Homo sapiens: one gene and its partners. The protein of the gene in region 2 interacts with the protein of the main gene of each other region in a pairwise test. Each region holds a gene or a part of one and is shown on either strand. Other genes may lie near its edges.

Region 1 (7,838 bases), on a different chromosome or scaffold from region 2:
GCATATATACACCATGGAATACTATGCAGCCATAAAAAAGGATGAGTTCATGTCCTCCGCAGGGACATGGAGGAAGCTGGAAGCCATCATTCTCAGCAAACTATCACAAGAACAGAAGACCAAATACTGCATGTTCTCACTCATAAGTGGGACTTGAACAATGAGAACACATGGACACAGGGAGGGGAACATCACATACCAGGGCCTGTGGCGGGGTAGGGGGCTAGGGGAGGGATACCATTAGGAGAAATGCTAGGGCAATTAGTCAAGAGAAAGAAATAAAGGGTATTCAATGTAGATGACGCGTTGATAGGTGCAGCAAACCACCATGGCATGTGTATACCTGCACATTCTGCACGTGTACCCCAAACCTGCACATTCTGCACATGTACCCCAAACGTGCACATTCTGCACATGTACCCCAGCACTTAAAAGTATAACTTAAAAAAAATTAGGACAGGGTGTGGTGGCTCATGCCTGTAATCCCAGCACTTTGGGAGGCTGAGGTGGGTGGATCACGAGGTCAGGAAATCGAGACCACCTTGGCTAACACGGTGAAACCCCGTCTCTACTAAAAATACAAAAAGTTAGCCGGGCGTGGTGGCGGGCGCCTGTAGTCCCAGCTACTCAGGAGGCTGAGGCAGGAGAATGGCGTGAACCCGGGAGGCGGAGCTTGCAGTGAGCCGAGATCGCGCCACTGCACTCCAGCCTGGGCGACAGAGTGAGACTCCGTCTCAAAAAAAAAATAAATAAATAAAAATAAAAAATTAGTAGCTAAATCTCAAGATTGTTGTGTGTTAATTAACCTCACCATCTGGCATTTCAGCTTTGGAGAGAAAGGGCAAGAAGTTTTCTAGACATTACACCATGAAGGCTTAACTACATTGTTATTATTTTATATTTTAACCTTTAAATAACAAAATCAATTAATTTTTACTTGGTAAGGTGGAGGTTGACCAGACAATATTTGTAGTGCCTGCAGTTTGACATCATTTGAGTACATACATACTCTACTCAAGACACCTGCTACCTAAGGTTCTTCAACTTGAAATCTTTTTAAAATTATAAAATGGTTATTATTATTATTTTTAAACTTGGTTTAATAAGTGGCTGAGATACTTAACAATTTGTGAATATATTCTCATGTGAATAATGAATTCTATAAAGCAATTAGAAGCCAGGTACAGTGGCCTGTAATCCCAGCACTTTGGGAGGCCGGAGCAGAAGGATTGTTTGAGGCCAGGAATTTGAGACCAGCCTGGACAATATAGTGAGACCCCCATATCTACAAAAGAAAATTAGGCAGGCATGGTGGTGCATACACATACTCTGAGTTACTTGGGAGGTTAAGACAGGAGAATCGCTTGAACCCAAGAGTTTGAGATTACAGTGGGCTGTGATTGCATCACTGCATTCCAGCCTGGATGACAGAGCAAGACCCCATCTCAGCAACAATAACAACAAAAATAATGCCATTAGAAAAACCAGTGCATTCTCTAAAATAGGTTCACAATTCTGCCTGTCTTGCTTAAGGCATTAAATTTCATGCAAACACTTCATTTGTAAATTATACAAAGGAAAACTTTAGCTTCACTTTAGTGGAATCACCATTTTCAGATTGGAAATCAAATTATCAAGGCTTTGTTTTCTGATGTAATGCAAAGTACTGGGTTTAGATTTTAGGAAAATTTCTAAATTATTTAAACCAGAACATATATTCATTATGAGAAACCTTACGTTTTTAATCAAATCCATACCTGTAATATACCTTCTTGAGCTTCGTTAAGGGAACAAAACAATTGAAGATGTGCATAGTGGCTTTAATTGGCCAGCATTTTAAAGAGGCATGTTATAGTCAGCTTTTTGAGCTTAACAAAGAGCTAGGGTATCATATGCAGTCACCATTCTTTGGGATGGGTTGTGGATTATTCAGGGAACATTTTGAAAATCCAACCAGAATCCTCCTTGCCCCATCCCCAGTCTCTTTTTAGACAGCGTTCTCTCTGTCTCTTCTGTTTACTTTCTGGATCAGCTTAGGGATTATAAAGTAATTTGACTATCAGACTAAGCCAAACATAATTGGGAAAGAGAAGCTGCCAAGAAGCAATCAGATCCACTGCATTCCAAAACCAAGCCTATTCTAAATGCTTGATGGACCATCCCCAGCACAGCCCACATGACTGTGAGCTACATGTGAATGGAGTTCTAATTGGATGCTCCCCACCACCTCAGTCCACAGACTTGAATTCACAAACCCTTGCAATAAGGAGAAAAGGAAGATGAGCTCAATCATACCTGTTCTCAGATATGCTTTACACAGCAAACCACCCAAAACTTACCAAGTAAAGAAACTGTCAGCTTTGGTCCTTAGATCCTTTGGAGAGGGAGCATTCTGGTGCCCGTCACATCCCAGGAATGATCTGTCCCCAGTTTCCAATCTGATGTGGTACTTTTTCTTGGAAGCCTTTTTGCTCCTGGCAGTTTCACTGTGGCCCTGCCCCCAGACACAGCTGAGGTTTGTAAATGAGGAAGGATGTCTCAATCTGAAGGTGTAGCAACTACTGAAGGGAGCTTGGAGGTTTTTTGTCTTTGTTTTTTTGTGCTGTGTTTTTTTTAAAAAAAAAAAAAAAAAAGAAAGAAAAGAGGCTTTATGGCCTAGAGGGGAAGCAGTTAGCAAGAGAAAATACTTTGAGTACTGTTGGTTCCCAAAACCACAAAACCCCAGGACTCAATGCAAAGCATTGCCTCAGTTTGGAATCTTTCTTGATAGAAGGAAAAGCAGTTCTCACCTGTCTTACCTTCTATTTCTGTACCAGCAGTGGCAACAGCAGCAAGTGAACAAGCAGTTCACTTCTTTCCCACCTGTTCAGAGTGACAGCTCATTTATTGCACAACTCACTTAGGGCAGAGGCATTGAGATGGGCATTTAACAGGGAGGAGCTACCAGCGCTCACCCTAGCAGAGGTGAAGTGGTATCTACTTGTCAACAGAGTATTCCAATATGAGCCTCTTTAAAGGGAGCTTGAGTAGTTATCAGGGACTGGTAGAAAGACAGGGATTGGTCCCCTAAGCTTGATGCCCTCCTTTCTCTGCAATTTTGGCTGGAATAGGAAGTAGTTTCCAGAGAGCTTGGGGCTGTTTTTGAAGGTACTTGGTTGCCCAGTGATTTGATTCACAACACACAGCCCTTAGGGCAACAAAAGGGAAAGGCCAGAATAGGCAGCATGCCAGCATTCAGAGCCTGACTGCCAGGCATACTCTTGGAGAGTGCCCAGTGTGGGGGAGACCCTGTTGGACTGGTCTCAGGTCCTAGGTCCTAACAGAGTCTAGATTACATTAAAAGAAAGTCTACAGGTGGAAACTAAGGTCCAGGAGAGAGACGCTTGAGTCATCTGCCCTCCTCCCACCTAACACCCTCTTCCTAGGCAGATGTAGAAGCAGCCTGCAACTTGTTGCTTCTTGCCCGAAGGATTCGCAGGGCTGTGAGTGAGACTCAGTCAAAAAAGAACAAGAGGTAGCCACACAGAGAGAAAATGCAGCCCAACTGTCTGGTGGCCTCCTTTATGGGAAATCTCCCCTTCCAGAATGTCAGCATCCCCTCCCTAAACGATGTTTTTTCAGATCCTTTAACAATAAAATTTAAACTGTTTCCCTGCATCTGAAGAAAGGAACCTCTTTTCCACTTTCCTCCTTTCTTCCCCCAAGTCTCCAGGTCAAATTACTGACACCCACTGGCCAGTGAAAACAACAGCAGGTTTTGTTTTCCATGTATGAGAGGAGGGTGTGTATATGTGGGTGCCGTCATAAATGTGACCAGCATCTTAAACCCACGGTAACTGAAGTTATAAGTATGCCAAAAGCAATCAGATAATTATATTTTAATAATTCATGACATCACAGAAATATACACAATGAATTTTTCCTTTACACTTTGTACTTTAGTAACAATTACTGGAATAAATTAGGTAAATTCTGTTTCAGCTTTAAGAAAGTTGCTGACAAGAATGTGCCAGATATAAATAGTTTCTAATGGAATGATTAAATAGAACAAACAATAAATAAACCGACAAGTAAATCTGTTAATAAAGTTTAAAGACTTGCACATAAAGAATTGATTCTCAGAAACAGGTAAATAATCAAAACTCTGCTCTCCACTGTAAGAAGCTTCTTAAATGAACATGGGAGTGCAGCTATCTCTTTGACATACTTATTCTATATCCTCTGGATATATATCCAGAGGTAGGATTGCAGGATTATATGAGAGCTCTATTTTCAATTTTCTGAGGAACCACCATACTGTTTTCCATAACGGTTGTACCAATTTACATTTCCAGCAACAGTGTATGTATTATTCTATTCTCACACTGCTATAAAGACATACCTGACTGGGTAATTTATCAAGTTTACTGACTCATCGTTCTGCATGTCTGGGGAGGCCTCAGGAAACTTACAATCATGGAAGAAGGCAAGAGAGAAGCAAAGGCACATCTTACATGGTGGCAGGCAAGAGAGAGCAAATGAATGAAGGAAGAGCCCCTTATAAAAGCATCACATCTCGTGAGAACTCACTCACTATGACAAGAACAGTATGGGGGAAACCACTCCCATGATCCAATCACCCACCACCAGATCCTTCCCTTGACATGTGGGGATTATGGGGATTACAATTTGAGATGAGATTTGGGTGGGGACACAGAGCCAAACCATATTAGTATACAAAGATTCCTTTTTCTCTACATTCTCTTCAATACTCATCTGTTGTCTTTTTGATGAAAGCCATTCCAACAGTGTAAGGTAGTTTCTCATTGTAGTTTGCGTTTTAATTTACATTTCCATGATGATTAGTGATTTGACCATTTTTTTTTATATATCTGTTGGACATTTGTATGTCTTCTTTTGAGAAATGTCTATTCAGATACTTTGTCTATTTTTTAATCAGATTTTTTTTCTATTGAGTTGTTTGCTGTTGAGTGTTTCTTATATATTTTGGATACTCCTTGTCAGATGGATAGTTTACAAATATTTTTTCCCATTCCATAGATTATCTTTTTACCCTGTTGACTGTTGCTTTGGTTGTGCAAAAGCTTTTTGTTTTGATGCCACCTCATTTATTTGTACTTTTGTTGCCTGTGTTTGGGGTCATATACAAAAAACCACTGCCTAGACCAATGTCATTACAGCATTGTTCACAATAATCAATAAGGGGAATCAACCTGGGCTCATCGATCGATGAATGGATAAAGAAAATATATTATGTGTGTGTCTCTGTGTGTGTGTGTGTGTGTGTTTGTGTGTATGTAATGGAATTCTATTCAGCCCTGAAAAAGAAGGAAATCTTATCATTTGTGACAACATGGATGAGCTTGCAAGACACGTACTAAGTGAATTAAGGCAGGCACAGAAATATGAGCACTGCATGATTTCACTTAGAAGTGGCAACTAAAAAAGTCAAACTCATAGAAGCATAGAGTAGTATGGTGGTTGTCAGGGCATGAGAGTGAGGACAGGGGAGTGGCTAGATGATGGCCAAAAGGTACAAAAATTTAGTCATATAGGATTAATAAGTTCAGGAGACCTACTGTGCTACAGTTAGTAATAATATCTCATATACTTGAAAATGGCTAAGAGGCTAGATAGTAAATGTCCTCACAACATAGAATGATAAGTATATGAGGTGATGGATATGTTAATTAGCTTGATTTCATGATTTCACAGTATATACATACATTAAAACATCAAGTTGTACACCATAAATGTATATAATTTTTACCTGCCAACTATACCTTAATTTTTTTTACTTTAAGTTCAAGGTTACAGATGCAGCTTTGTTATATAGGTAAACTCATGTCATGGGGGTTTGTTGTACAGATTATTTTGTTACTCAGGTATTAGATCTAATACCCATTAGTTATTTTTCCTGATCCCCTCTCTCCTCCCATTCTCTACCTTGCAATAGGATGCAGTGCCTGTTGTTCTCTTCTGTGTATCCATGTGTTCTCATCTTTTAACCCTCATTTATAAGTGAGAACATGCAATATTCGGTTTTCTATCCTGTATCAGTTTGCTAAGGGTAATGGCCTCCAGCTCCAGCCATGTCCCTGCAAAGAATATGATCTCATCCTTTTTTATGGCTGCATAGTATCCCATGGTGTATATGTATCACATTTTCTTTATCCAGTCTACCATTGATGGGCATTTCGGTTGATTCCATGTCTTTTCTATGTGAATAGTGCTGCAATGAACATATGCTTGCATTTGTCTTTATGATAGAATTATTCCTTTGGGTATATACTCAGTAATGAGATTGCTGAGTTGAATGGCATTTCTGTTTTGAGGTCTTTAAGGAATCACCAAACTGTTTTGCACTATGGTTGAACTAATTTACACTCCCACCAACAGTACATAAGCATTCCTTTTTCTCCGTAACCTCACCAGCATCTGTTTTTTTTTTTTTTTTAACTTTTTAACAATAGCCATTCTGACTGGATGTGAAATGATATCTCATTGTGGTTTTGATTTGCATTTCTCTAATGATCAGTGATGTTGAGCTTTTTTTCATATGCTTTTTGGCTGCATGTATGTCTTCTTATGAAAAGTGTTCATGTCATTTGCCTACTTTTTAATGTAGTTTGCTTTTTCTTATAAATTTGCTTAAGTTTTCTTATGGAAGCTGGGTATTAGACCTTTGTCAGATGCATAGTTTGCAAATATTTTCTCTCATTTGTATAGGTTGTCTGTTTACTCTGTTAATAGTTTCTATTGCTGTCCAGAAGCTTTTTAGTTTAATTAGATCCCATTTGTAATTTTTGCTTTCGTTGTAATTGCTTTTGGCATCTTCAGCATGAAATCTTTGCCCATTCCTATGTTCAGAATGGTATTGCCTAGGTTGTCTTCCAGGGTTTTTATAGTCTTGAGTTTTAAATTTTTGTCTTTAATCTTGAGTTAATTTTTGTATAAGGTGTAAAGAAGGCATCCATTTTCAATCTTGTGCTTATGACTAGCTAGTTATCCCAGCACTATTTATTGAATAGGGAGACCTTTTCCTATTGTTTCCAATCTTCTGCTTATGGCTAGCTAGTTATCCCAGCACCATTTATTGAATAGGGAATCCTTTTCCTATTGCTTATTTTTGTCAGCTTTGTTGAAGATCAGCTAGTTGTAGGTGTACCACTTTATTTCTGGGCTTTTATTCTGTTCCACTGGTCTATTTGTCTGTTTTTGTACTGGTACCATGCTGTTTTGGTTACTGCTGCCCTATAGTATAGTTTAAAGTTGTGTAGCATGATGCCTCCAGCTTTGGAGAAGAGGGAGTTCCTTCTCCTCAATTCTTCTTGCTTAGGATATTCGTGGCTGTTAGGGCTGTTTTTTGGTTCATATGAATTTTAAAGTATTTTCTATAGTTCTGTGAAGAATGCCATTAATAGTTTGATAGGCACAGCACTGAATCTATTAATTGCTTTGGACATTATGGCTATCTTAATGACATTTATTGTTTTTCTTCATGAGCATGGAATGTTTTTTCATTTGTTTCATCTCTGATTTCTTTGAGCAGTGTTTTGTAGTTCTCCTTGCAGATATCTTTTAGCTGTATTCATAGGTATTTTTTTCTTTTTGTGGCAATTGTGAATAGAATCGAGTTTCTGATTTGGCTCTCAGCTTGACTGTTGTTGATGTATAGGAGTGCTAGTGATTTTGGTATACTGATTATTTTTATCCTGAGATTTTGCTGAAGTTATTTATCAGCTTAAAGAGCTTTTGGGCTGAGACTATGAAGTTTTCTAGATATAAGATTATGTTGTCTGCAAAAAGGATAGTTTGACTTCTTCTCTTTCTGTATA
Region 2 (7,024 bases):
CTCACCTATCCTCGAGACTGCACTCACCAATGGATAATTAGCATTTTAATTTAAATTTCTTAGGGTGCTAGGCACTCTTTCTACTTATACTTTCTCTCTCTTGTGTTATATAACATTTAATATGAAATATATTTATATAACTGTATATATAATATTATCTGTGAAAGAAATGAAAGAAACAGTCACATACCAAATTAAAATGACTGTGGGATAGGGACATGTTAGTGCTTGGAAGAGAAACTTCAAACCACTCCAATCCTTATGCAGGGACTGCTTGATGAGTCTTTGAAGGTCAGTGATAATGACAGATGGTTATCCATTCTCGACAACTTACTGGTATATAAGCTAATGTTGTTCCACAACGAGTGTAACTGAACAGGTAGAGTATGCATTTAGAAAAATAATCCAGACTTGAAGGCTGTGATACAGACTATCATTTACTGAACACACAACCAAAAACTGGTCTGGAAAGACAATTAAAAATAATTGTTACCTGTACTACTCCATTTCCAGCAGTTTACCATTAACAAAGAAGGTAAGGAAGGAGCAATTATTGGTGAGTAGTTAGAGCCAAAGCATCCATCCTCCGTACTCAGGGCAAACTATGCTGGGTGCTAATAGCCCTGTTGATGCCTGCCAGTCAGAACTTCCATGGGACTGTTCAGCTGCTGAAACTGCTGTGGGTGAGGACTTTGTTTGAGACCAGCTCACATACAAAAGGGTGCAAGTGCTTTAATTAAAATCTTATTCTTCCAGAAAAAAAAAGAGACATTTTCTTTTTCTTTAATAGCAATGGCACAAAGTACCTCTATCTCTGTTCCTCACTCGGGCTATAAAATGCATCAACATTCGTTTTTCTTAAAGAAAAAAAATCCTCTATAGCGCACAAGACTTAATTTATCTTTCCCAAACAGAAGGAAGCATAAATAACCTTTTAGAGAAATCAAAAACATAAAGATGCAGTCTTTTCCAACTTAAAATTGTGTAAGCAGGACGTATGTAAGTTTTGTGTGTGCAATAGCTATGAACATACCTTGCAGATATAAGCACGGTTCTCCTATGTCTTCCTATTTGGGATCCCTTGCTTTGGTTGACAGTGTCACCCCAGCCAGGGGCAAAACCCCCTCAAAACCAAAGTGAAAAGGGAAAAACTGTAGGCAGAAAAAGGTGAGTGAATATCTTCCATCAAATACCTTCATGTCAAATTAATTTAAAATGCTTTGTAATCACAGTGAGAGAAAGTAAGCAGCTTAAAAAAGGCAGGAATACTTTCAAAATACCTGTTACTAATTGTTCCCTAGTCCAGCTAACACATTTCACCCAAAGGGCAACTTCTTACTCTAGAAAGGAGGGTATTTTGATAACCATATTATTCTGTGATGGTGTGATGAAATATGGAAAGACAGTGTACATATTTTTATATTCCTAAATGTGTGTGAGTTGCATGCTGGCAGACAGATCACAGATGCAAGAAGGAAGACAGCACAAAGAAACATGAAAGAAAACTCAATAAACCATCTTAGGGACTATTAAAAATTACTAAAGTTGTCAAATCATATACAATTTTCTATTAAAGAATGTCAAGCTTGGGGAACTAAACCAGAAACGTTAATAATAACCACAACTGACCCTTAATGGGAAACTATTGGTGCCTTTTTAATAAGTTGTGGTGAGGAGAGTTCAAATTACAGCATAACAGAATTCGTTTCGTGAATTAATGCAGTCTGTAGTAAGCATATCATATAGCAGTATTATCCAGTTAAAGAAAGATACAGTTGAAAAACATTACGTTTTAATTCTCCATGAGTAAAGTGATAAGTAACTATAAAATCATTATTGGGAGAACATGGAAACAGTCAAGCATAACGAACTTACAGAAAGATAATTATCTCCAAATTTAGGAAGTACATGTACCTGCCTACCCACCTCTTCAAGCCTATGCTTACCACACGTGCAAAAATACAATACAATACAACTACTGCAATTATTACTATCATTTTCTTTTGCCCTTAGGTGAAAAACACCTGACAGCTACATGCTGAGCCATGCTAACAAAACTAAACCTTTCACTTTCTTTAATAGTAAAATTACCATTACTGAATCATTGTCATAAAAAGTGCATTCAAGTACATTACCACTTATTTTAAATAAACACCAATTTTGAAACAATCAACTTTGAAAAGCTGCATAAGTTTTTTTTTTAATCCCTGATTACATTTCTATTTATTCACTGTGGTAGCCTGAAACATTGTATTTTTAGAGACTAACTACTGCTTAATTTCTTTTTTAAAAAAAACAACAACAAACCTGTGTAATATAGAACAGCAGTGAAGCAAGAAAAATGTGTGCTTGTCACTTATCTTCACCATACTGTACATAAGAACTCTGATAAAATATGGTACTTGTGCCACATTAGTATTTGGGAAAACATAATTAACTCATAGCACAGAGCACATGGTTTACCAACTTACTACTGTAAAATTCAAGGTTTGGACTTTCACCTCAGTTCTGTATTCAGGCTACCAGAGCATCCCCACGGAGGTCCTCGGGAGGCTTTGGACACAATCAATAGCATGTATTTTTCATCCAATAGTTAACAATGTGTGTAATTAACACTGACTATGGGACTACGAGTTTGATGCCAGCTCCTGAGTTTTCAGTTTATCTCAGTCTACTGTAGAAAATAACTTGTATGCCACAGTACCCAACAATTTCCATGCTGCTGCAGTTTCTCCATCAAGAGGATCAGACCCAAAACAGAAGCTTCTTTGGGGGCTTTTAAAATCACATTGGGTTGATCAGTTTTGTTTATCCGATTATATACAAGCACCTCAAACTTTCAGCATTCCATTTGATGAGTGGTATGCACATTTCCTAAAAAGGTATCAACATCTGAATTTTTTTGTAACCTTCTAAAAGAAGTCATACTTAATACAGTAACTAGGAAAAAAACCTCATCTTTATAAAGATCAAAAAACCAAAACCTACTAGGAATGTGTGTTTTGCTAAACAGCTTACTTATGTTTATAGTTGCTACTTACAAAAGTGACACCAGAAAAGAACCTGTATTCTGAATACAGTGACCAGAGCAGAATGTCTACAGCCCTTGCCAATATAACAACACTAATCATGTGCTTATTGAAAAGGACTTCCAAACATGTCAGGCTTCTGGTTTATGGATCAGCAGTTGGAGCTGTCTGTCTCTCTCACGTTTTCAATGCTGTCTTCTTTGTTTTCTGGTTGAATTTCGCCTTCATCCTCCTTGTGTTGAGTTGGATCTTTTTCAGCAACCTGGTCTTTGGTTTGGGGTTCATGTGTAGAAACAGGATCTAAAACTACAACTGGTTCGGCTTGTTTTTCACCGTCAATGTATTTTTTCCTGCATCCAATGCTACTGGGAGGCCTATGAGATGAAGAGTTAGACAAAAAAAGTAAAAAGCAGAGAGAGAAAATAGTTGTCTCTGATATTCTGGATTCAGACTAACATAAAACCCAAAATGTTCTAAGTCTAATCAACATGCATATAGTAGTCTTTGAGATGCCAGCCATTTAAAAGAAAAAATGAAGCTATCAGATTACACAGCTGATACTAGGAGCACAAGGCCAGAAGAAAGAAGGCAGAGAAAGAGCGATTAACTACAGAAGTGTTAAAAAGCCAAATGCACCTACCTGCTTAATTGCATTCTCTTCTCAGGAAGCGTAAAGCTCATGGACAAACTGTGAACTTCTCACAGCCTGCTGCCCAGACCCCCACCCGCCCTCACTTAGCTGGATGGAGCCAGTTAACTCCCTTCCCTCCTGTGTGTCCCTGGGTATGGCTGGTTGCAGGGTAGTGCTGAGGAGCCTGCAGGGACAAGGGGAGTAATCACCCCTCATCACTGATGGACAGGTGAGAGGCATGCTGACTGCTGCCATTACCAACTAGAGGAGACCTGGTCAGACTTCAGGAGGGGGTGGTGGTAGGACCAAGGGCGGAGAGAGAGCCAGAGTAGAAGCTAAAATGCTAAGTTACCATTAATGTTTCTAAAAGGAGAATCAGGTTTCTTGAGAAATTTCTTATGGAATTTCAGAGGCAGTTTTCCACAGACTCCTTCTCTCGTCTCTTCTGCTGCAAGAAGCTATGGCTTCTCAGGCTGAATGGGTGAGGATTTCATTATGGGAACAGATATCTCTGAAACACCCGAAGGTTCAGGCTGCTGAGCTGCGGCCTGAAGGTGGAGGCAGCTGCAGCAGGCAGGGCTGGGGCTTTCGGACTTTTCTGGTCTTTTTGGAAAATGCTAGGATCAGGCCTTTTTGTCCCTGAGAACTGGCTGTTAACCATGACCCGGCACACCACCATCCCACCTCTTGGTGTTCCGCCAGGTGCCAGTGAGCTGCCAGCCAGTGCCTGCCCACTGCTCTACCAGCCCCTCACCAGGAGTTGGTTTCTACTATTCTCTGACCCCTTCAGCAGGTCAGAGCTGGCAGGAGACACTCTTTTACCACCTAATACCTCTCCCTTGTTGGACTTACCACAATTGTTTCCTGTCTGTCTCTTCCAATAGCATGTAAACATCCACGAGGCAGGGACTGTTTAGCTTTACTCACAATTCTATCCCCAGCACCTAGCACAGATGCATTTGTGGACTAAACGAATGGGCAAATACTAATAAACTGAAGGGTTCAGAATGAAGGGGGAGAAATCAAGGTTTGGGTGTGAGTAGGTCTGGATGTCTCTCTTGCAACAAAAACAACAGAACAAATGATCAACTACTGAGCAAAAGTAACCTGCATGACCCGGTCACGGGCACAAAACCTCAAACCCAAAGACCACACTGCTTTTTTCACTTTCTGACCAGTACTGTAAGATCTGTCCAAATGTTTAAAAACCACTCCCTCTGGCTACTGGGTTATATTACCTATGTGTGGCTCGGTCATCATCCTAAGTGACAAACACTATGTCTTCCTTGGAGGTGGTAAAAACAAAAATAATCAGGAGCCTGGGGACAGGCTGTGCTGTAGTGAGGACAGATTCCTTTATTTTTGCCTGATTATGGCACCATGACATTGTCCATCTACCTTGGCCAAGGAACTACTTCTCCAGACATCTGCCGCTATGCTTTGGGAATCAGAATGGGGTGTAGTTTCTCCAGTGGTACCTGTTTTGACTCTCTCTGACCCACACAATATTTAAAAGCCTGTGATGGGAGAAGCAGAACAACTATGAGTAATATTAAGGATTGATCAGAGGAATCAGACCTTAGGGAATGAGAGGCACTAGTCATGCCGTCTGTGTAAATCTGCTGCTTCTGCGTCTGACACTGGGCCTGCAGTCAGCTGTTCTGACAGTTGGGAGGGAAGGCGGCTGTAAAGTGACAGAGACTGGGGACAAACTAGAGCTGCACCTATCTCTCTCTCACAAGCACCAATCTTGATGATGCAAGACAATCTGCAGAATAAGCAGGAGCCTTCCCCAAGGAGCTGCACATGCACCTGCCCCAGGATTTGGAAAAGCTGGAGGAGGAGATGTGGGGAGCTGGAGAAACTGTGGGCCAGTCACTGCCACATGCCAGTTAGGTGAGTCAGCACATCAGGAATGTCATGCACAAGCTATAACAGAGCCTGCCCTACACGGACCTTCCGAGGGTTAAAAAAAATTTTTTTAAGACAACTACTTCACTTCCACCTTCTAAATCTCATGCAGATTTATCTGTCGGCAACTCTAAACTGAAAACAAACAGGTGAGGAGATTCTAGGAAATAAAGCTGCAGCCCAGCTAAGGTTCCAGGGAAAGTCCCATCCAAGTCTGCAGATTGAGTCACCAGTACGAAGGTTTCACCATCTTGGGCCTGGGCCCACTCTTATGTAAGCCAGTCAAACTGCTTTCAGCATGCAAAGGAGGTAGTATTTCTCTCATTCTAGGTGAGCAACTTCCATCAACCCATACTAACCTTCATCACTTCTGTAGAACTACCATGGATGTTTCCATGCTCGTGTGTGTCTGTAGGTGAAGGGGTGGTGCACAGATCCTAGAAAAAGCTTTCTTCATCAGCTCAGGGCTAAAAATTTCCAGGAAGTGCTCTCTGGGCTCCACAGCAGCAATACATGGATGTTGATTGAACTGAAAACTCATAAACCTAGTATTGTCAGGCTGAAATTGTCCTGGAATTGTCTCAGTCCAAAGAACGATCTCCCTGTCCTGAAGCAAGCTTCTTGACTGCAGATTAATCTATTATTAAGTCACTTATAGGCTACAATTTGAGAACCCCTTTGTTATCACTGAACTAGGCGCAGTGGGCATTTTCTGAATCTAGGCATGGAGGGAGAGTGACTGGTTTCTCAAGGATAATGACCACTGCCTTAGAATCCCAGTGGAAGGTGGAAAGGGACTAGGGCAATCGTCTAGTCTGACCTGTCCTTTTACAGATGAGGATGATGGGGCATGAAGAGGGGAAGGAACTGGCCCGAAACCACACAGCTCATCAGTGGCAGAGTCAGAACAAGAGTCAGAAGCTCCTGTCTCCCTGTTTCTGCCTTTTCCATGACAGCATGCTGTTTCTCAAAGGCATCTTCTCCTAGAAACAGGAGGCTACAGGCTAGTTTTTGGCATGTTTACTGATTTCATTCTTTCCGAATCCGTTTCCATCTCCATCTTCCAGATCTGTAAATAAAGTCTATCCCTTCAAGCTATCCCTTAGTTTTAATTTTTCCCCTGTGGTTTGTAGCTCCTCCTGGCTTGACATCACTAGGTCCACTCTTGGCTCCCACGGGCAGCTGCCCAAGACTCCTTCTGGAATGAGAGTCCTTTCTTTCTCCTAGGCCTCATTCTACCTTCATTCCTATCGTATGGGAAGAGCCACAGAGCCGCATCAGTGATGGTGCCAAGAACCCAAGTTCTCACTCTAGTAGTCATGGTGGCAGGTTCTAGAGGGTTAAATATGAAGCTTCTCCCCAAGGTAGAAATCCCAGAAGCTCAAATGCAACACTTCAATGGGAATTGTAATATACTGTCATTCTGTTCAATTTTTTTTTCTACTTTAATGCA
Region 3 (7,359 bases), on a different chromosome or scaffold from region 2:
GTGTGAGATGCAAGAACTCTCTCTTGGGGTCTGGATTGGGACCCCTTTCTGGTAACAAAGACCCCATGGACCAAGGGCATAAAAAGAAGGGATGTCTAAGACTTGCTGGTTCTATGGCAGGCAGAGGCAGAAAGAGCCCCACCATCATTCCCAGCAAATGGGAAAAGTTCCCAGTTGCAGATATTAGGGGTGGGATGGGGCGGGGGTAGTCAGCAACCATAGACTTAGACCCTGAAGAGGCAAAAAAGGAGGGCCATGTTCTTGGGTCAGCAGAGCTTCTACTCAGCTTCTTCAGCCTCTAGCTCTTTCCTGGTGCTAGTAGCACATTCTCTAGTGGAGGCATCCAGATGGCAGGGAGGGTCCAGGAAACAGCTGAACATGCTGAGCAGGCCTCCCTTGTCCCCGCTCCCCATGGCCCCATGGATCATCCGGTGCTGCAGCTCATCTCATTGGCTGGCTTCTGGTTACTCATCTCTCCTCTTCTCCATCTTCCCAGCCTGTGGTTGCCGTGGAAACATAGAACAGTGACCTCACCATAGGATGAGGGCTGGGGAGATGCTGTTCTTGGCAGGCGCTGGTCTTGCTGCCTGCCAGATGTTATATCCACATCTGGATCTGCCAAGGGCAAGACAGAGGAGTACAAAAAGGGACAGGGCTCACATTCTTCCCCAAATGTAGTCAGCATAACAGAGGAAGAGGATGCAGGTAGATCAGAGGGATGAGGAGAGAACTGTACATACTTAGAAGGGAGAAGGGTGTAAACCAGGAGGAAAGGAGATGGGGTGTGGCTTATGGGTTAACCTCGGTGACCCAGGTCTGAGCACCATGGCGAGGTGAGGGAAGGGCAGTGAGGGTAGTTGGTCTGAGGTTTGTCGAGTAGAGCTCCTCAAAGCCCCGTGCTGCTCAATTTGGACAGGCCCAAGAGAGGGAGCAAATGGATTTTCTGGCAGTGACCCCACCCCAACCCATTCTGAAAAACCTCTATAGCCCCTTTTTCAGTTGAAGCCCTTTCTAATCCTGTCCCAGAAATAATAAAACTGAGGATTAAAGAAGCAAAGCAATCTGCCTCAGGTAACTAACTCAGTAGGTAGTGGCAGAGCTCAGACTAGGTCTTAGGTGTCTGCACTATCCCTGGAGACAATAACAATAGCAGCAGGAGGAGCAGCAGCAGTGAACTTTCGTAAGTCAACCATGCTTAGCATTTAAATGTATTATCTCGGGCCAGGTGTCGTGGCTCACACCTGTAGTCTCAGCACTTTGGAAGCCGAGGCAAGCAGATTGCTTGAGGCCAGGAGTCCAACACCAGCCTGGGCAACACGGCAAAACCCTGTCTCTACCAAAAAAATGCACAAAAAATTAGCCAGGCGTGGTGCCATGCGCCTGTAGTCCTAACTACTCAGGAGGCTGAGGTGGGAGGATCCCTTGAGTCTGGGAGGTCAAGAATGCCATGAGCTGAGATCATGCCACTGCACTCCAGCCTGAGTGACAGAGTGAGACTCTCTCCAAATAAATAAATAGGCCAGGCGTGGTGGCTCATGCCTGTAATCCCAGCACTTTGGGAGGCCAAGGCAGGCGGATCACTTGAGGTCAGGAGTTCAAGGCCAGCCTGGCCAATATGGTGAAACCCCGTCTCTACTAAAAATATAAAAATTAGCCTGGCGCGGTGGCCCGCGCCTATAGTCCCAGCTACTTGGGAGGCTGAGGCAGGAGAATCACTTGAACCTGGGAGGCTGAGGCAGGAGAATCACTTGAACCTGGGAGGCAGAGGTTGCAGTGAGCTGAGATAACACCATTGCACTCCAGCCTGGGTGACAGAGTGCAAGACTCCATCTCCAAAAAAAAATCCCTTCATTTTAAAGATGAAACTGAAGCTGGCGTGGTGGCTCATGCCTGTAATCCCAGAACTTTAGGAGGTCCAGGTGGGCAGATCACCTGAGGTCAGGAGTTTAAGACCAGCCTGGCCAACATGGCGAAACCCCGTCTCTACTAAAAATACAAAAATTATCCAGATGTGGTGGCAGTTGCCTGTAATCCCAGCTACTTGGGAGGCTGAGGCAGGAGAATTGCTTGAACCCAGGAGGTGGAGGTTGCAGTGAGCCAAGATCACACCACTGCACTTCAGCCTGGGCAACGAGACTCCTTCTCAAAAAAAAAAAAAAAAAAATGGAGACTCAGAATGGCTTAAGTGAATTGCCCAAGGCCACACAGCTAGTACCCAACAAAATTCAGATCAGAACGCAGATCTGCCAGCAGCCATTAGCCCAGCCCCAGCTCTCCATCATTGCATTACAAGGGCCACATAAGGAGTCAGTTCTAGTTCCTGGCCACACAGTCCTTGAGAGGAGGCCCTATGTGTGAGGGCTGCGACCTTGAGTCAGAAATCATCTTTTCCCCCTCCTCCTCTCCTGGCACCTGTTCCAACAGTGAGATCACCAAGGCTCCATGCCCAGCCCTGAAGCCTGTCCCTATAGCTTTGGCAGAAATGAGCCTCTGAGTCTTCTGGCAACTGGACCGTCCAAAGGAATCAAGATCTTAGGGTGGGGAGAGGGCTCTTCCTCCCTGGCCTTGTTCTCAGAACAGTCCAGGGAAGGGAGGCAGGGTTTGCACATGGAGAAACAGAGTCCCAGGAAGGAGGGCCTGCCATACTCTACGCACGTGGCAGGCCTCTGGGCTCCTGTGTTGGCTCCTGCAGGCCCACCCTGGACAGGCTGCTGCTGGCTGAAATTCAGTTCGGCACTACTCCTTGGTGTGCAGGGCCTCCTGCCATCCCTCAGAAATTCATTTATACCTCACTTCCTTTGAGAAGTCTACATTGGGCCCTCAGGTCAGGACAGGACAGGACTCCCTTTAGAGGCACCACGCTAGTTTTATGTCTGGCTGCCCAGAGGTGAATGTGTGTCTTGTTCCCTGTTGTCTCTCTCCAAAGCAGGGCCTGGCACAAAGTAGGTGCTTTATTAACTGCTGAATTAATGAGTGAGCTCCTCAGAGCTTCAACTTGTTCACCTTTTTAAAAAGAGAAAATAATACAGTAACACCTACTTCATGGATTTTGCTTTAAAAGTCCAATGAGGCCAGGTGTGGTGGCGTGTGCCTATAGTCCCAGCTGCTGGGGAGGCTAAGGTAGGAGGATCCCCTGAGCCCCGGAGTTTGAGGCTGCAGTGAGCTATGATGGCGTCACAGTACTCCAGCCTGGGAGACACAGCGAGAGACTTTGTCTCTAAAAAATAATAATAAAATAAAAAGTTCAATGAAACAATACACCCAAAGCCCTCAGCATGCAATAAATAGCAAGACAAGGCAGGTCTTATTTTTACTGAAAGTGCTTAGTAAACTATACAGTGACAAACCACCGCACAACAGGCTCTCGAAAGGAGGCAGCAAATTACCCAAAAGTGCAGGCGGCTTGCTAGTGTGCACAGGCCAAAGAAAGGGCGGCAGGTGGGGAAGGCAGCCATGGGCCTTGAAGAGCTGACCGAATTGGCAGAATTTCTGCAGGAGGGGAGCTGGGAACGACCTGAGCTAAAGCTCGGAGCTGTGCGAAGAAACCGGAAAAGCCCAGAGCACTTGCAGGGGCGGGTGGGGAGCTAGATGGTGGGGTGGGGTGGGGACGGAGGAGGGCCAGCAGGAGACATTCCGCAGGGAGGGGCAAGCACGTGTGAGGCGGGCGGGGCGCGAAGGGTCAGGCTTTTGCTCAAAACAGGCAGAGGACAAGGTCAGCTCAGCCGCAGACCGAGCCGCTGGTGACTGTCTCCGCCACCAGGCAGTGAGAGTGAAGGGAGAGCGCGAGCTCTGAAGCCCGCTAGACTAAGCTTGCAATCTGAGCTCCATTCACCCCCTCCTATTTCTTGAGACCTTGTCAGTTCCCCTGTGAGCCTCGGACTCCTCACTTGTAAAACGAGGACAGATGCCCGTGCCAGAAGTCAACCAGAGCTTTCCCCGGCGTGGGCACCAGCCCAAGGGCGTTTTGCTTTTCTAGTCTCATCTCTGCTCTGACGCTAAGCTCAAAGAGGGACTGGGGGACGGGAAGATATCCACCATGGCATGCGCCCTAGCTCTCGGGCTGGTGTTGGCTGCTTCCTTCTCAGATTCCAGAGTGCCTAGAGGCCAGGAAAGGGAGAAGGTCCTACCAGCCTGGGGTAGGGACTCGGGGGCCAGGCACTGGCGCTGACGCAGGCTAGCAGGGCGCCACTGGCTGGTCCCCACCCACCTCGGTGGGTTGGGGGATGGGCGCACCAGCCCCTCCTGGGTGAGCCCTAGCCTGGGGCTTCCTATTTCGGGAGCCGGGGGCGTGGGCCACGTCTCCTCATGTGATGCGAGGGCTATTTAAAGCGGCAGCCCGGGCAGGGAGCCGCCGTCGGAGCCCTTGCACGCCTGCTCTCTTGTAGCTTCTCTCAGCCTAGCCCAGCATCACTATGGTGGACGCTTTCCTGGGCACCTGGAAGCTAGTGGACAGCAAGAATTTCGATGACTACATGAAGTCACTCGGTGAGCAAGCCGCGGGGCTCAGGATGTTGGCTTGGGGACTGGCTGGTGGCGTGCCTAGCCCCACGCAGCACTCCTGCCGCATCCCTCCTGGTTAAGACTGGGGAATAGGGGAGCGCGGAGATGGCAGCCTGGCCTAGAGCAGGTGGGGCCTGTTCAGAGGGGGCTTTGGTGGTCCAAATCTGGTTAGAGACCACGGTAGGGAGGTGGTGGAAGGAGGCAGCTGTGTGGGAGGCTCTTTCCAGGAAGAGGGATATGTGATTTGGAGGTAGGAGGAGGGTTTGGATAAAGAACACTGATCACAGGAAAGGGAGTGTAGCCAGGGGAGAAAAAGAACAGGGGCATGGGTAGTTTAGAAATTGGAGGAGACTGAACCCAGAAAGGGAATGGGGCAGCCAGGGAGTGTACAATGATGTAAACAAGTAGGAAATACCTAGGAGGAAAAAGATTAGTGGGGAAAAAACTGTGGATCAGTGAATCAGATATGAGAAGGACGTAAGACAGGAACCTGCAGTAAGCAGCAATCCCCATCTCTGCTTGGTTAGGGAAGAGAATTCTTGCTGGAGAATGCCCTTTCTCACCAGCCAGTCTGACCTTGTCCTGCAGTCTATGTATCCAGGCCTTCATCACTGTCTGTGAGCCTCGTGGTAGGGTGGGGCAAGAGGCCCATGATCAGCTGGGCCTTTCCTGCAACCCAAGGCTCACCTATCTGTGCGAGGGGTAGGCAGAGAAAGCCATTGGACTTCTGATGTGCAGTAGAGGGTCCCAAGGCAAGGTCAAGACCTGGGAGGGAGGATCACTGGTTTAGGAGGATGTGGAGAACTGCTGTGGTGTTGGGATGGAGAAGAATCAGGATTCAAAGAATCTCACAGGTGAGGAACTTGGAGATTCCCATACCATCTAGTTCAACAGGGAAACTGAAACCAGGAGAGTAGAAATGTATTATAACAATTCCACAGCAGAGCCAATATGAAAATCTAAGGTTTCTAGATCTGTAACCCAGAGCTCTTCCCACTACCCTACAGGCCCTGCGAGTGGGAAGAAAAGTAGAAACTGCTTAGCTAATGATTGACCTCAGCCCTTCTTCTACTGCTTTGGGCTTAGATGGAGAGGTCAAAGCTCTCAACGGCCTCTACCCTATCTTGGGCGCTATGCCCAGTAATTCTAGGCAGGCAGTCATTCTTAGAGGAGCAGCCCCCAGCCCCCACGAACACAGCCCAGCAGCTATTGGGAAGTTGGAATGCCCAGATTTAGTTCCTCCTTCCAAAGCTGGGCCAGAGCTGAGTCTTGAATTGAGCTGCAACAACTTTACCATTCTTGTTCCCTTATTCTGCCCCGAGTTGGGTCAGCGGGCTGGTCTCCCTGAAGTCCTGTTATCTTTCAGCAGCTTATGTTAAGGCAGCCAGCATTCTCATCGTAGGAATGGAAAGCCTGGGAAAATACCCTCCTCAGCTCTCAGTAAGTAGTGCTGGCTTCATTTCTAAGTAGAACCCAGATCTCCCTGAGTCTCCTAAATTCTGTCAGCTCAATATTCTTAGTTTCTCTTGGTTCAGACCCTCACTCATCCCGCAGTGGTTTCCTTTTCAAACACTCCATACCTCTGGGTAGATCCTAAGTGAACAGAGCTCCCAGTGCCGTGACAAGGTCCTGCTCTGTGCAAGGGAGTGTGATTGGCCTGACTCATCCTGATACCAAGGGGCAATGCCAAGTTCCTCACTGGCCAAGCAAGGGTGGGCTGACAGCATAACAGCAGAGGCAGCCCCTGCCCCTCCTGCTGTAGACCTAGGGCTCTCAAGGGGCAAAGAGGTCCCGTCTAGTACCAGTGACCACAGGCACAACTGCTGGCCTGGATTGAGTATGTGCTGGACAGAATCGCCCAGTGAAAATAGTCAACAGTTTTGGAGCCGAGGTTCAAATCTATGTCAGTAGTTTATTCTCTTTGAATTTCGACAAGACACTTCGCACTCTTCATTGTAAACTGGGGATAATCTACGCTTCGAGGCTGTTACAAGCATTAAGTAAAACAACCCATGTAGGGCATGTGCAGAGTACCTAGCTTCCAGCAAGCACTATGTAGCCAGGTACATTTGGAGACTTTACACACACCACCTCACTACACTGGGCTGCCTCCTGCCTCACCTTTGCCTTGGAAGACAGTTCAATGTTAAGCTGCTGGGGGGAGAGGGGGCAGTCATGATTAGTTCTTTGTTCTTTACTTGGTTGCAGGACACTTAGGACTTTGCCCAGTACCCAAGGAAGCCATGCTTGGGTCAGGAAGAGAGTCTCTGTAAAGCCTTAGACTGGGAGTCAGGAGACGGGTTTGAGTCTAACTCATTGTTGCTACCGCTTTAGGCTCCTCCTGAATCTGCACAATAGGACAAATACTTCCTTTGTACCTAACTCCTAGATCATAGATAACAGGCTTTGAAAATGATGGGTTGCCATGTATAAGGGACAAGAGCACTAACACTTCTTAGTTTCAGGGTAAAAACTTCCAAAGTTGGAAAACTCCTATGCCTAAGGCTTTGGAAGGGAAAGTCTATGTTTCTCTTCTTTCCTCAGCCTTATTCCTAAGGCTTTGAGAGCTTTTCAGGTGCCCTGGAAGGCAGCCTTATGCTCCAGCCTTGGGAGGTAGTATAGCTGAGCACTTAAGCAAGCTCTGGACTCAGACAATTCTGGGCTTCAATCTCAGATTTGTGACCCTGGGCTTTACCTCTGTTTTTGTATCTGTAACGTGGAAACAGTCTTCAGAAGAACAGGAAGAACTAAATGAGATAACATGTACAGTTCTTACTACACAAAAAGCTCATAGTACTTAATAGTAGCTTTTTTTTTTTTTTTGAGGTGGAATCTCACTCTGTTGGCTAGGCTGGAGTG
Region 4 (7,024 bases), on a different chromosome or scaffold from region 2:
CTAAGCTTTAGAGCCATGGATGAAAGGTGGTTCATCACTGTGGAATTGATGATACCACCATCTCTAAGATAACACAGATAGTGTAGTAATAACTTCCCCTGAGTCCCAGCCTAGCAACATCTCATGTACTTGCTTATTCTTGTGCCTCTTTTACTATAGGGAAATGTTATGTGAATACTGCACAGGGGTTAATAAAAAAATACATATGCTCTCTTTGAAGAAGAATGCACAAATGCAGGGTCAGCTGGGGCTGGACCCCAGACTGACACAGAGGCTGCAGCAGGTCGCCTCTGTGGGTCCGGGGTCACCCTTCATGAGTGGTGGCTGCTGATGAGTCCTCGGAGCTGCTTGGCCACGGTGTCAATGAGTTTCTGCTTGTCTCGCTCATTTTTCCGAAACTGTGCAAACATGTTGTTCTTGCGGCTAGTATCCTTCATCCTAAACAGAGAAGGAAAGAAAGAGGGCAACATGTTTGAGGAAACAATGGTGGAAGGAGAACCTGCAGGAAGCAGGATGGCAATGCATCTTAACCACTACCCAGAGTAATGAGAGAGTCCAGAATATCTCCACTGTCAGGCCCACACTCACCTACTCATCAGGAAGCTGGCATTCTGGCACCTATAGCCCTCCCAACTTCAGTCACCTTTGGAAACTGGTCAAGACCCAGTTTTGGAGGGGTCAATCTCCCTACCCCTTATACCTGCTCCACCTAATTCATTCTCTTCTCTCAGCAGGTATGTACCTGCTGTAGGTGTCTGGGACAGGGAACAGCTCTGCTGGTCAATAAGCCCTTATAGAATGTCTAGGATCCACTCATTACCTCATGAACCTACTAAATCCTGATAGGACCTTTGAGATAATATTTGAAAGGTAAAGCAGGAAAAGTGTTCTTAACTAGCAATTCCAACAGAACATGAATAACTGAAGGCCACTGTATATTTCTAAACCTCACTCTAGCTGGCTACTCTATCCTATCCCCAACAAAACTAAGGGCTTGACTGACCTTTTTCCTTTCGTCTCAGGGTAAAGGCACATAGGTGGTGTGGTGGCTAAGAGAGTAGAGTGCTGAGGAAAGCATGGGCCAAATGGCTGGGCCATCCTCTCACTCCATAAACCAGAGCTTTTTACATGAGAAGCCTTTGAGTTCTCAATGGCTGTCTGTACCCCTGGACCTTTGACCTTTGGGTCATGCTAAAGCTTCATAGATGGCATATTCCTAGAACACAAACCATGGGTAATTCTGGCCAGTGGTTCTTTCAGACAGACAGCCCTAACTGGGAAACATGGACAAGAAAGTCAAGACTAGGCTGAGATGGTCACAGAACCCCCAAGTCTGACTAAGCAACTGTGACAGAATTCAGGAATCTGCTATTCCCTGCAGAGGGCCCACAACCTCTGACATCTATTGGTGGCCACTAACTCTTGTCCTAGCTGCTGCACACCAGACCCATATCCCACAGCTAGTTCCAGTGTTAGACAATTGAGAACATGCCAAGACAGATTTCTCTCTGGGATAGGGGCAGGCCAGTCTTCACCAGAGTTGGGCCAGCCCTCTGACTTCACTGCTCCCTGGGCTGTATGGAGACAGGCTAGAAGAGAGGAGGGAAGGAACATGGCACCGGGCTATAAATTGCCCCCAGGCTATTTCCCAGGGGACTTTGGGCCAATCCTGCACCATTTTCTCCCCCACTGTGGGTGGCCCTTTGCAGAGGAGCAGATTAGAGGCCAGTGAGTCAAAAAGCCAGAGATTCCCACAGGGGCATTTATGTTTGGTATATATGATATAAATTTACAATATATATATTCCATAAGGGCATTATATATGGCAAAAAGGTTCTAATGAGCACCACAGCTGTATGGCTCTGGCTAACAGTGATAGCCACAAACTAATTAAGAATTCTTTCGGCTGGGCGCGGTAGCTCACGCCTGTAATCCCAGCACTTTGGGAGGCCGAGGCGGGTGGATCATGAGGTCAGGAGATCAAGACCATCCTGACTAACACGGTGAAACCCCATCTCTACTAAAAATCCAGAAAGTAGGCCGGGTGTGGTGGCAGGTGCCTGTAGTCCCAGCTATTCGAGAGGCTGAGGCAGGAGAATGGTGTGAACCCAGGAGGCGGAGCTTGCAGTGAGCCAAGATCACACCACTGCACTCCAGTCTGGGTGGCAGAGCGAGACTCCGTCTCAAAAAAAAAAAAAAGAATTATCTCACTAATCTAAGCTCAAGAGCCTTCAGGCTGGAATTACTCATCAAGCAAACTCAGAACATTGAATATAAGGTACGACCACCCACATGTGGAGGCCTGTGCTTGGAAGGGAAGAAGAAGGGGAAGTGACTGCGCTAGTTGAAGAGAAAGCACGAGGGTCCTTAAGACTCTGATAATTACTGTATTTGTTCCCTAACACACTAGTTGCACAATTACATTTGTAGAACTGGCCTAGTTTTAGATAGTTCCAAAGAAAGATTCCCTTTCCTCCGCTGAGTATACAATATATCTAAACATTAACAACAACAGAAAACAAACAAAAAGAAATGAAGAAAACCACTTCCTATATTCATAGGACATTTAGTTTAATATCCTACATTATCATTAATTTCATGACTCCTGGAAGCAGCTGAGAGACAGGCAGCCCGCTGGCTTTTGGCTCCCACAGGGAAGCTCCTGTAATTATCTAGGAGAAAGAGGGTAGTCTTTGGCCACAAAGGCTAGAATTTCTTGGCCATTAAGACCTGGAGTTGGAACTAGGCACTGTAAAGATAAACTCAAGTACCCTGAGGGCTAGTGGTGGCCTGCTGGTTTCTACTCAGGAATGCTCCAAAAACAAAAGTCAGCCCTCCCACCTTCCATCCCATTCTGAAAGCCCAATATCCTGTTCTACTTTATTAACAGCTATGGCCACCTCTCAATGATGCAGGGGCCACTTCTTTTCCCTCAATGTCTTTAGCAGGTCTTTTGTCTTTCTGTTTCGCCCTGCTAAGAAGGGCCAGGTTGAAAAGGAGAGTCAAGATCTGATGGTAGAACTGGCTGTGGAAAAGCAGGAATAGGTCAGGTAAAGGGGTCAATTCCTATGAGGCTGGGAGATACGGATTGTAGTGATCTGGATGCCCTTTGCTCTGCTGTGTTTGGAAGGAAGCTTTTAAACTCTTCTGATTGCTAGGGCTAAGCACATAGTTTCTTTACTGGCCAACGCTCCAGAATGGTAGGGAGAGGCTAATTATTTTAGACTATTGTTGAGCCATAGGGAGTGGATAAGCCAGTATTTCCTAGATCCAGAGATTCCTGGGAACGGAGGAGTAAAGGACTGCTGAGAGATGTAAATAACTGAAGGGAATCCCAGAGCCCATTTGAAGGACACATATGACCATTAAATATGACCATTTAAGCACCACCTCAAAGGTCAAAATGTTCCCTTCTTTCAGCTTGGCACCAAGAACTGTGGGATTAAGCCTTGCCTCTAATAAAGGGTCTTCTATAAGAGATGCAGGTTCTAGATTTTAAAGCCACCAAGAGGTAGGGGAGGCTGCTGAGGAGCTCCCTTCGGTCAGGGCTTTATTTCAGGCCCCACACTAGCAAGAGTATTGAGTGTGCCAAGAAGCTGAATGGGAACAACCCTTTACCTGGCACAATGGGAGAAAATCCCTGCCGCCACTCCCAGCCCCAAAGGAATTAGTAAGCCAAGGGTCACTGTAAGGGCCAAGGATAGAGAAGGCAGCCAGCCAGTTGGCACCAGGCTGGTTTAGTAGATTAGTATGTCAGGGCGGGGACAACTCAGAGGCTAGGGATTTTAGTGTAGTCATTAGTGTCAATGAGGAAACCAGAAGGACTTGCCTCAAAGTGATGGAAAAGGCCCAAGTGAATAATATACTTACTCTCTAGATATCCTAGGGCGGAAGGTCAGTGGGAGAGAGAACCATGGGAAACAAAGTTAAAATGGAAACATCAATCTCTGACGTGGTCAGGAGAAAACTGCAGTCTGAGTTTTTAGTCTCTTGGCTCCAAATACATACACCTGCATCATGCTCTTGCCTACCCTTCATCTCTTCCCCTTTTCTCCCCCTTTCATATTACATAGTAAGAAGGATAGACTTTGACCTCTCCTTCTGCTTAAGGCTCCACTCTGACTTCCTGGACTCTGAGCCTTGTCTTCCTAGGATTTGAGACATGGTTGACTGGCCATATATGTAGACTTCCTACACTGCCTAGATGCAGGGCATTCTTCCAAGTAGCTGGGGCTTAACTAGTTTCTCAGATTTCAAGAGAAACCTGCCTTTTTATATGGGTCTTGGTCTCTGACCTGCCAGCTCTCTAATAGATTAGCAAAGCCAGAGCCAGGCTGTAATACATAGCATTTCCCAGCTTCTGGGTGACATATTTGTTAGCCCTGAGATTTCCTGGAGCTGCCTAACTTACTTTCAGTGGTAGCACCTCTGCTTCAGAGAGGCTACAGCTCTGTGGCAGGGAACCCTCTGCAGGCTAGTGACTGCTTAAGGCAAGAATTAGACACCTTCTCCAACACAGCTTTGTTGGGATAGTCAGCACAATAAAGCTCAGTCTGGCAGGGGGTGGGAGCTGGGAACAGATGAAGGTTTCAATAATTCTAAATAATTTCCAGGGATTCTCTACTAGGAACCAGAGAAACCATCTGTTCTGTGGAGTTGCACTATCCATCATCATACCCCAGGTGACTAGGGCAGCCTCATTCTGTTCACCAGGCTGGCCTGAGCCCCAAACCGAGCCATTTTTTTTTCTCTTGCCATATCTAGTAAGAGACGCTAGTAAGAGACCCATTAAACTAGAAGGTAATGTCAGAATCCAATTCTGATCCATACTTGGCCTGGCTTGTTGGGGGCTCAGGAATTAATAAGCCACAGGAGGAAGACTGGCCTGCCAAGTCCAGTGACTGAGATTGCTGACAGCACCCAGGGCCTATGGCAACTTCCAGAACAAGGCTATCTTTCAAGGTATTGGCAGTGGCAAAATTATCTTCTACGCCAACCCCCAATCCCTGTCTCCCCACCTCCCAACACAGACCATTGGACAAGGTACTCACTTCTCAAGCAGGGTCAGAGCAGTCACTGGGTTTACCCGGAGGTACTTGCAGTTGGGCTGACCATAGTCAGCAAGGTAGGTTGACCAATCCCACTGGATGAAAAGATCCAAAAGCTGTAAAATATCCAAACCCCACCCCAGGGATTAGTCAGACAGACAAGACAAACCAAGATTCCAGAAACTTCATCATCCTTCACTACCAGCTAATAAATTGGATATATAAAAATTAAAATATAATAAGAAAAAGAACAGCTGCAGACTATTCTTTCAACCAAGAAAATAAGTGAGTAAACATTAGATGGCAGACTTATCTCTGCCATAAGCAGTATGGAAACATTGCTAAGACTATATGCCAGCAGTCAGCTCTCAGAGGCAACCCTGTAAAGAAACTAACACGGGACTGAATCAAATATGATAATAATATCATAATAATTATTCACTTACTCATTTAATAAATACTTATCAAATGCCTTCAACATGCCAAGAACCATTCTCAGTATTCAACAAAGAACAAATAAAGGTGGATGTAGTCCAGTGCCACATATACAATTGTTTGAACTTCAAGGTTAAAAGGTCTGGGTTCAAGTATCAGTTCTGTGACTTGCTGTACTGACTTAGCCCAAGTGACTTAGGTAATACAGACATATACACATGCCTATATACAAATAGGACACACAGATAACACAGAAACACTGAAACAAGGCATAAATGGATCATGTAGCATTTATAAGAGGCAATATGTGTTACGTCTATGCAGACACAGGCTAAGAAGATGAAATCAGGGCCATAGTAGATTAGCCCATGATTGAGGACACAGAGTCTAGCTAGAATTGGGTTATGAGTGTTAAAGAGAAGTGCCAAGAGCTAGATGTGTGAAAAGACAATGAGAGCTTTCTGAGGGTGAGCTGAGTTCTGACACGGGAGATTTTGACTGAGAGAAACTAAACTTTTGTCAAAGGCTTTCCTTCCCAGTCAGTTTTAGCCTCAGACATCACACTAACAAATATTCAAAAATTGTAACTAAGTAAAACAAACAAATAAAAGCTTCTAGAAGGGGCACAGTCCCAGACTCATATCACTGCATAGAGGGAGAACCCTCACAGTACTTTTTGACTCAAGACATTCTCCATTTCTCCCTTTCCAGGAGATAGGTAAGTGCTGATGAGGACAAGTAGATGGCTGGTTGTGCAGAACAAAGGCAGAGGGCCAAGAGTGCAGTCATATCCAATGCCAGAGCCTGGGCTCTAGGCACACCTTCCTCCATGTCTGTCTTCACTGTGCAGCTGGGCAAACAGGCAGTATGGGCCTTGCCCTGTTTGGCCAAGTCTCCACTTCATCCAGTTTCTTAGAATAGCTGTTATGAACTTCCTGAAGCAGGATGGGAATTGGCTGAAGTCCCAAACCTAAAACTTAGAAAAGTCCCTATACCCTCAGCCAAGAAAGGGATTTTAGAGATGAGAGAAGGAGTGGGGGAGAGACAGGCACACTGGTTGGTCTGGGCCAGGATGGTCCCAAACGGCCCCTCAGGCCATTTTCAGGTCATGCCTATTTTCATTAGCAAGTTAAAAGGCTTCTACCACTTCCTTCTGTTGACCCAAGGCCTCAGAGAGTTATCCTTTAGAAGAGAATTTCCCTTGACTTTCTACTCTAGTATCAGTATTTCTTTCTTTTTTTTTTTTTTAATTATACTTTAAGTTCTAGGGTACATGTGCACAACGTGCAGGTTTGTTACATATGTATACATGTGCCATGTTGGTGTGCTGCACCCATTAACTCGTCATTTACATTATGTATATCTCCTAATGCTATCCCTCCCCCTCCCCCCAACCCCACGACAGGCCCCGGTGTGTGATGTTCCCCTTCCTGTGTCCATGTGTTCTCATTGTTCAATTCCCACCTATGAGTGAGAACATGAGGTGTTTGGTTTTTGTCCTTGCGATAGATAGTTTGCTGAGAATGATGGTTTCCAGCTTC

Evidence for each region.
Region 1: the proteins of SHTN1 (region 2) and BBOX1 interact in binary tests that used the Homo sapiens proteins (3 or more experiments, as listed by UniProt).
Region 3: the proteins of SHTN1 (region 2) and FABP3 interact in binary tests that used the Homo sapiens proteins (3 or more experiments, as listed by UniProt).
Region 4: the proteins of SHTN1 (region 2) and EXOC6B interact in binary tests that used the Homo sapiens proteins (3 or more experiments, as listed by UniProt).

What each region holds. Positions count from the first base shown.
Region 1 is NC_000011.10:27,035,980-27,043,817, reverse strand, and holds the start of BBOX1 (gamma-butyrobetaine dioxygenase), read right to left. Parts: upstream 3,004-7,838; 5' UTR 2,790-3,003; intron 2,603-2,789; 5' UTR 2,340-2,602; intron 2,019-2,339; exon of another isoform or gene 1,758-2,018; intron 1-1,757. UniProt on the Homo sapiens protein: Catalyzes the formation of L-carnitine from gamma-butyrobetaine.
Region 2 is NC_000010.11:116,883,164-116,890,187, forward strand, and holds part of SHTN1 (shootin-1), read right to left. Parts: intron 3,404-7,024; coding exon 3,181-3,403; 3' UTR 1-3,180. UniProt on the Homo sapiens protein: Involved in the generation of internal asymmetric signals required for neuronal polarization and neurite outgrowth.
Region 3 is NC_000001.11:31,370,068-31,377,426, reverse strand, and holds the start of FABP3 (fatty acid-binding protein, heart), read left to right. Parts: upstream 1-4,350; 5' UTR 4,351-4,412; coding exon 4,413-4,485; intron 4,486-7,359. UniProt on the Homo sapiens protein: FABPs are thought to play a role in the intracellular transport of long-chain fatty acids and their acyl-CoA esters.
Region 4 is NC_000002.12:72,179,024-72,186,047, forward strand, and holds part of EXOC6B (exocyst complex component 6B), read right to left. Parts: intron 5,165-7,024; coding exon 5,052-5,164; intron 3,883-5,051; coding exon of another isoform or gene 3,867-3,882; exon of another isoform or gene 3,830-3,866; intron 439-3,829; coding exon 312-438; 3' UTR 1-311. UniProt on the Homo sapiens protein: Component of the exocyst complex involved in the docking of exocytic vesicles with fusion sites on the plasma membrane.